2 linked regions of the Homo sapiens genome follow. The protein of the gene in region 1 purifies or fractionates together with the protein of each later gene. This does not show direct contact. Each region holds a gene or a part of one and is shown on either strand. Other genes may lie near its edges.

Region 1 (4,622 bases):
ATTATCATTTTTCCAGAGTAAACCTTCTAAGGTTCATTTCCCTACCTCGCAAGACTCCACATTCCATGTAACATCTTCATCCCCAATTCCCATAATAAGGTGATTGAGGATCTGTTGTTTCCTTTTGTTCAAAATAAACCTGATGTGCTTCAAATATCATGTTGAATATACTGTCATCTGGTCTAATGTTATGTTTTGATTAGAGGCTACTATGATTGATTATTTTACAGATGCGTAATGGAATTAACGGTTATAAAAGTTGATATGTCTCCTTTAATTTTTTAATACAGAATTTTGCATTTACCTGAATTAGAGTTCTAGTGTTATGACAACATTGGGAAAAGAGTAAATATGAAAAAAGTAGAACAAAATCTCAAATTAATAGTTGAATATATATATAAAATATTAGCATACACATATGATAACTTTTTCATATGCCCTTGCAGTATTTTTAGATTGGAGATAAACCATCAAAACTATAGAACAAAATATTTAAGCTAGAGTGATATTTATTCTAAATCACTTTCTACTCTAAAATTTTGTTGCATCTTCTTTTTTTCCTCCTAAATCCTAAGGGTATATGAAAAGACAAAGAAAATTCAAGCAAGTTACAACTTCAGGCAAAGAAAACTCTCATAAGCAATTCCTGTATTTTACTTAGCATTTTCTATGAAATTCCATTTCCACAAGCACTAAGGTAATTTACCATTTAGTTGAATTGTTTGATTAATTTTCTATGTTTTAAGCACAATATCAGGTACTTACAGAAGGTATAATTAAAAATCACTTCCCTTGTTTTCCATGAACTTCTGCTCCCAAACCCAAAATTCTTTCAACAAGAAACAAACTATTTTCATGAATATAACTGAATTAGATTAAGGAAACCAATGTTGGTGACTTGGAAATACCAATATGGCACAAAGATGTTCAGGGTGATTTTATTTATTTTATAAAATGATAATAAAATTTATTTTATAGTTGAAAAGCCTATTTCTGTCATATCATTGATTCTGTTACATAAAGTGCTAAATTTTGATATCTCATATTATGCTACTATGGCTTACATTAGAAATAATATATGTCAAATAAAAACTCATCTAGATCAATAGACTTTTCCTTTGTGGATTCTTTTTTAAAACTACCAAGTTTGAGAATATGAATATATTTGTTTTTCATATTGTTCTGCAATGAATATAAAGTCACTTATAATCAGAAAGCAATTAAATGTAAATAACAGTAAAGAATGAGAACTATAGAAAATAGATATGAAAATGCAAGCCCACAGAGATGAGAATAGATCATGTGGAACATAAACACTAAAGAGCTGCTTTTATAAAACTTCAATTTTTTCTTTGAGTTCCCTAGCAGCCAAAGTAACAAGGGAGACTGAAAGTAAAACAATTCAAATTTGATAGTATTTTTATATGAGGAACAACACTTTCAGGAAATGTTTAACCCTAGTTTTTCATGAGGCCACCTTAACAACTGAATTCTCTTTCTCTCTCACTCTGTGTATAAGTATTTTAGATAAGTAAAAGAACAATGTTATAATGTTAAGTCAAACATAGACACAATAATTTAAATTTGATGTTAATCGAGAAATACAATGCCATTTCCATATATATTTAGTTTCAATATGACTTATAATCTGAATATTCCATAAATAAGCACGTTGGAAATATTTGGGGGAAGAAACCCAAAACACGTGAAATTCTGTGGTGGTAAATGCAGTGCACAGTACTCACAGTTTTAGGCGCAAGGTGTCGCTCTTTACTTGGTGGAAAGTTCATTTAAAGGTTGGTCTGAACAGTGAGGCACTCCCATACAAAGGAACTCCATCATACCGGATGCCACCGTTTAAGGATCCTTTGAAACTTCTTAAGAATTCAACGAGATTTTTAACCTGAAACTGAAGAATCTGGTACTGTAAGTGTAAAGAAGCTTATTTTGGAAGCCAATTTCGTATGCGATGTTTGGTTTTCAGAGAAGGGGATTGGGCACCCCACGACTACAGCTCTGGCTTCTCCTCCTCGAATTCTGGGAGGTGGGGAGCGGCCAGCTCCACTACTCCGTCTCGGAGGAGGCCAAACACGGCACCTTCGTGGGCCGCATCGCGCAGGACCTGGGGCTGGAGCTGGCGGAGCTGGTGCAGCGCCTGTTCCGGGTGGCGTCCAAAACACATGGGGACCTTCTGGAGGTAAATCTGCAGAATGGCATTTTGTTTGTGAATTCTCGGATCGACCGCGAGGAGCTGTGCGGGCAGAGCGCGGAGTGCAGCATCCACCTGGAGGTGATCGTGGACAGGCCGCTGCAGGTTTTCCATGTGAACGTGGAGGTGAAGGACATTAACGACAACCCGCCGGTGTTCTCGCTCAGAGAACAAAAGCTGCTGATTGCGGAATCTAAGCAATCGGACTCGCGTTTTCCACTAGAGGGAGCTTCTGATGCTGACATTGAAGAGAATGCTCTATTGACCTACAGGCTAAGTAAAAATGAGTATTTTTCTTTAGATTCACCAACAAATGGTAAGCAGATTAAAAGACTGTCACTTATTTTAAAGAAGTCTCTGGATAGAGAGAAAACTCCGGAACTTAATTTGCTGCTAACAGCTACAGACGGGGGAAAACCAGAGCTTACTGGCACCGTTCGGCTGTTAGTCCAAGTCTTGGATGTCAACGACAATGATCCAGAGTTTGATAAATCAGAATATAAGGTGAGCCTTATGGAAAATGCTGCTAAAGAAACTCTTGTGCTCAAACTAAACGCCACAGACCGAGACGAAGGAGTCAATGGAGAGGTAACATACTCCTTAATGTCAATTAAGCCCAATGGAAGACACTTATTTACACTAGATCAAAATAATGGAGAAGTGAGGGTCAATGGAACTTTAGATTATGAAGAAAACAAGTTTTATAAAATTGAAGTACAGGCTACAGATAAGGGGACTCCCCCAATGGCAGGTCACTGTACAGTCTGGGTGGAAATCTTGGACACCAACGATAACTCTCCTGAAGTCGCCGTGACTTCCTTGTCCCTCCCAGTACGAGAGGACGCTCAGCCCAGCACGGTCATTGCCCTGATCAGCGTGTCTGACCGTGACTCAGGTGTCAACGGACAGGTGACCTGCTCGCTGACGCCCCACGTTCCCTTCAAGCTGGTGTCCACCTTCAAGAATTACTACTCGTTGGTGCTGGACAGCGCCCTGGACCGCGAGAACGTGTGGGCCTATGAACTGGTGGTGACTGCGCGGGATGGGGGTTCGCCTTCTCTGTGGGCCACGGCCAGGGTATCCGTGGAGGTGGCCGACGTGAACGACAATGCGCCTGCGTTCGCACAGCCCGAGTACACCGTGTTCGTGAAGGAGAACAACCCACCAGGCTGCCACATCTTCACAGTGTCGGCGCGGGACGCGGACGCGCAGGAGAACGCGCTGGTGTCCTACTCGCTGGTGGAGCGGCGGTTGGGCGACCGCGCGCTGTCGAGCTACGTGTCGGTGCACGCGGAGAGCGGCAAGGTGTACGCGCTGCAGCCGTTGGACCACGAGGAGCTGGAGCTGCTACAGTTCCAGGTGAGCGCGCGCGATGCGGGCGTGCCGCCTCTGAGCAGCAACGTGACGCTGCAGGTGTTCGTGCTGGACGAGAACGACAACGCGCCGGCACTGCTGGCGACTCAGGCTGGCAGCGCGGGAGGCGCAGTTAACAAGCTAGTACCGCGGTCGGTGGGTGCGGGCCACGTGGTGGCGAAGGTGCGCGCAGTGGATGCGGACTCAGGCTACAACGCGTGGCTTTCATATGAATTGCAGCCGGCGGCGGGCGGCTCGCGCATCCCGTTCCGCGTGGGGCTGTACACGGGCGAGATAAGCACAACGCGTGCCCTGGACGAGGCAGACTCGCCGCGCCACCGACTTCTAGTACTGGTGAAGGATCACGGTGAGCCGGCGCTGACGGCCACGGCCACCGTGCTGGTGTCGTTGGTGGAGAGCGGACAGGCGCCAAAGGCCTCTTCCCGGACTTTGGCGGGCGCCGCGAGCCCAGAGGCTGCGCTGGTGGATGTCAACGTGTACCTGATCATCGCCATCTGCGTGGTGTCCAGCCTCCTGGTACTCACGCTGCTGCTGTATACGGCGCTGTGGTGGTCGGCAACGCCCACTGAGGGCGCGTGCGCGCCGGGGAAGCCCACGCTGGTGTGCTCCCGCGCGGTGGGGAGCTGGTCATACTCGCAGCAGAGGCGGCAGAGGGTGTGCTCTGAGGAGGGCCCACCTAAGACGGACCTCATGGCCTTCAGCCCCAGTCTTCCTCTAGGTCTGAATAAAGAGGAGGAAGGGGAAAGACAGGAGCCAGGGTCAAATCACCCCGGACAGGTGAGTTTTCTACAGATTCCACCTATCAGGAAGTGTATGTGAAATTATTTAAAATCCAGTTTTTTTTCACGGATTTTTTAAGGGAAAGTTTTATGAATAACCAGTGTTTTGAATATTGTTTTAGATAACAATGTCTGTTCATAAAATACCAAATGATACACATCTTCAGTCTTTTAATCATATGAATAATCTGGCTTCTTTAACCAATAAATGTCCTATTTCTCTTAATATTTGGTTAGCAAATCCTAAAAGAAATGAGATG
Region 2 (3,822 bases), on another chromosome or scaffold:
TTTCTGAATCATTAAAGAGAATAATTAGAAAAATATATCCTGTATAGAAAAGATAGAAAATAATTTATACAGCATGGAAATCACCTTTACTTAAAAGATTGAAAGAACTTTTAAAATTGTCTTTACTTGGCATATTTCTTGCAAGAAATTTCTTCACAGTGTTTTCAGTCTTTTCTAAATTATCTTGACTTTTATTCTTACCTTACTGAATGTGTTAATCATGAATGGATAACGCATTATAACAAGTACCTTTTTAGGTACAAGATGATATTTTGATGGAAACTTACTCTTCTTGAACATGATGACATTGATGACCTAACACTGAACCATGTTTGCATAACTAAAATAAATCCCACTGGGACTTAGTATATTATTCTTTATAGATTTGATTTACTAGCATTTTAATATTTACAGCTATATAAAAAGATTTGTCTGAGGTTTTCTTTTATGTTTACTGTGGTAGGTTTTAGTGTCAGGGCTAGCACTGTGAAACAATTGAGAAACTCTCTATCTTTCACTTCTTCATATATTCATTGGTTGGGTTCTGGAGCCAGGAAAGGGGGAAGAAATTTTAGTTGTTCTTCTCCTACTTCACTCACCTAGGACTCTGACTAAAATCAATAGTACTATAATTAAATTATATAGTTTACTGCTTAGCTAGGTTTTTTGGGGGACTAGCTTGGGAACCAAATTACCATCTCAGGCCATTTTTTTCCTTTATGAAATATCCTTAGCAAATTCTAAATAATTAATTAAAAGATATGTATTAATTAATTAAAAGATTTCTGTGTATTTCTCTCTCCCATCTTCTTCTTTCACTGCCAGCATGATCAGGTGGCTGTGTATTATACCCTGGCAGCCACCCAGCTAGTGAATTCATTTTGGCTTCTGTTACCTGGTGTTTAATCTGAGTATTTTAAATGCTAAATCTTATTAGTAAACCTGTTGAAAGCTTGGCTCTAGAAACAAAGCCTAACTCATACACTTCTGGTGAGACTTTGATACAACTTTCTGTGTGGCAATTAGGCAATTCTTTACATCATCTGTTTTTTTTTTTTTTTTTGACCCAGCACTTCTGTTCATAGAAGATAAGCTGAAAGAAATCATTGCAGATATATGGGAAGATTTAGTTCCAGTGATGCACAGTTGAAGCATCTTTTATAAATGTAAAGATGTGTAAACAACTTGAATGCTCAGCAGTAGGGAATTAGTTAAATGAATATAGATAATTTAGTAATGGAACATTAAGTAACCATAGAATGTTACTGATAAATATATGTGTGACAGTGAAAGTTGTCTGTCATATATTAAGTGAAAAAAACATTTTACAAAACTTAAAGGCCCCATAAAATCCCATTTTGAAAAATAGGTTTGTAAATGCACGCACACAGCCTGGAATTACACATACTGAAGTAAAGGTAGTGGTGATCTCTTGGGGGCATGAGATTATGGGTAACTGTTTTCTTCTTTTCTGTTAGTGTTATCAGGTTTTCTGGAATGAACATATGTTACTACTGAAATAAGGAAAAAAATCACCCTTTTTTTTAAAAAACAAATGCCAGCACACATACAATATGTAGAAATTAAGAAGTAATGCATAACTAGAAAATCATTCCAAATAAAATGATATGAACATTGAGTTTTTAATTGTGTAGTGCCTACTATCTCTGGGGACACTAAGTCTTAAGCAGAGAAACCAAACCAAATGCAGATCTCCTAGAATCCTCATCTAGAAAGATCCAAGTCTGTTCTTATCACATCTATTTTCAAAAAAAATATTTTGCCCTCGTCATGCTTGAAAGGAGTTCTTTAACTTAAAAATTTTATGTGTTCTAATTATTTCTGTTGGGTTATTTGACAGACCGCCTGGACATTAGGGCAGCCCGGATTCTTCTGGATAATGACCATTACGCCATGGAAAAATTGAAGAAAAGAGTACTGGAATACTTGGCTGTCAGACAGCTCAAAAATAACCTGAAGGGCCCAATCCTATGCTTTGTTGGCCCTCCTGGAGTTGGTAAAACAAGTGTGGGAAGATCAGTGGCCAAGACTCTAGGTCGAGAGTTCCACAGGATTGCACTTGGAGGAGTATGTGATCAGTCTGACATTCGAGGACACAGGTAGAACACTTCTCTCAGTTTAATCTCTGATTCCTCTTTCTTTTTAATTGACTAGAGCTCCCTAAAAGCTTAGGCATAGCATACATCTATTTTCCTTAAAGGGCTATGTGTGGTACCTTGAATGAAAAGGACATTTACAAGAAGTATCAGCTAGCCTAGAGCCTCTAAGCGTAATGATAAACCCAAACTAACCTTGATTTGTATGACAGTGGATACTACTCTGTGCCTCAACTTTCCTGGAATCTCATTTGAATGTAATTATAAGTTATTTATGATTGGATATTATTATGTCTTTACACTCTTTTCAACCCAGTAGCATGCCATAAATAATGATCCCTAACTCTCAGAGTTAAAAAAAGTAACTGCAATAGGGAGGGCCAATAGGAGGAGGTGAGAAGTCTTTGATAACAAACTTGTTCTGATTGCAGTCTAAACTTCCTCTTATGAAGGTTGGTTTGTATTATGAATATGAGTAATAAGGATAAATGTTAGCATAATTATTAAGGCTTATTCTTGCATTTTGGACTCACTTTCTATAAAAAAACAATAAACTGTAAGAACTGTCCCTCTAGGCTGGGCACAGTGGCTCATGCCTGTAATCCTAACACTTTGGGAGGCTGAGGTGGGTGGATTGTTTGAGCCTAACAGTTTGAGACCAGCCGGGGCAACATAGGGAAACACTTTTGTCTCTACAAAATTTATATTTAAATTTTTTAATTTTAAATTTTAATTTTTGTCTCCACAAAAATTAAAAAATTATGCAGGCACAGTGGCATGCACCTGTGGTCCCAGCTACTCAGGAGGCTGAGATGGGAGAATCATTTAGGCCTGGGAAGGTCCAGGCTGCAGTAAGCCATGATTGTCCCACTGCACGCCAGCCTGGAGACAGAGACATTATCTCAAACAAACAAACAAACAAACAACAACAAAACTGTTTCTGATTAATCTGACATTATTAGAATCAGATTTGCATGTTGCATTCATTGTTCTCACTGGTCTCTTTGTTGATCTGATGGAAATTGCCTTGGGAAAGCATGAATTTACATTTCGTGGTTTAAGGGATTCATAGCAATTGTAAGTTGTGAGAAAACATACCTATAGTGTATGTGTTAAAGAACATGTTTAAATGTAGGAACCATGAACTGCTTATAAAAGAATATGATGCTTTTTTAATATCTTGTTTTCTATGTGCCTTATTCAAAGGGATCCCTATCCATAGACAGGGATGGGAAACTGTTTCAGAAACTTTTCTATAAGAAATGGTTATTTTTATTCTCTTTTATTTGCTCACTTAAAATTCTTACGCATTTAAAAAGTATCATTACTGGCCTTGTGTAGTAGCTCATGCCTGTAATCCCAGCACTTTGGGAGGCCAAGGCAGGCAGTTGCTTGAGCTCAGGAGTTCAAGAACAGCCTGGGCAACTTGGTGACACCCCATCTCTAAAAAAATAATAATAATAAATTTTAAAAAAGACTCATCACAAGATTTTAGTAAATAAACAATGAGGCGTGCAGATCAGAGTAGAGAATTGATTTGGGTGATTTCTTCTGGCAATTTCAAAAGATATTTTTGTTGCCTAGACTTCTTATTCTTGCATGTACCACTAGAGGCTATAGTTTGCTTTCGTAAAGGAATTGGCATTTCTCTTGGACCAAACTCAAAGAAGCTGCGTCTAGGGCCTAAATCTTCTAATTTTAGCTA

Evidence for each region.
Region 2: the proteins of PCDHA11 (region 1) and LONP2 purify together in Homo sapiens (affinity purification with mass spectrometry; one large-scale study listed by BioGRID and IntAct). This does not show direct contact.

What each region holds. Positions count from the first base shown.
Region 1 is NC_000005.10:140,867,135-140,871,756, forward strand, and holds the start of PCDHA11 (protocadherin alpha-11 isoform 1 precursor), read left to right. Parts: upstream 1-1,822; 5' UTR 1,823-1,969; coding exon 1,970-4,360; coding exon of another isoform or gene 4,361-4,402; exon of another isoform or gene 4,403-4,466; intron 4,467-4,622. UniProt on the Homo sapiens protein: Potential calcium-dependent cell-adhesion protein. May be involved in the establishment and maintenance of specific neuronal connections in the brain.
Region 2 is NC_000016.10:48,268,155-48,271,976, forward strand, and holds part of LONP2 (lon protease homolog 2, peroxisomal), read left to right. Parts: intron 1-1,861; coding exon 1,862-2,120; intron 2,121-3,822. UniProt on the Homo sapiens protein: ATP-dependent serine protease that mediates the selective degradation of misfolded and unassembled polypeptides in the peroxisomal matrix.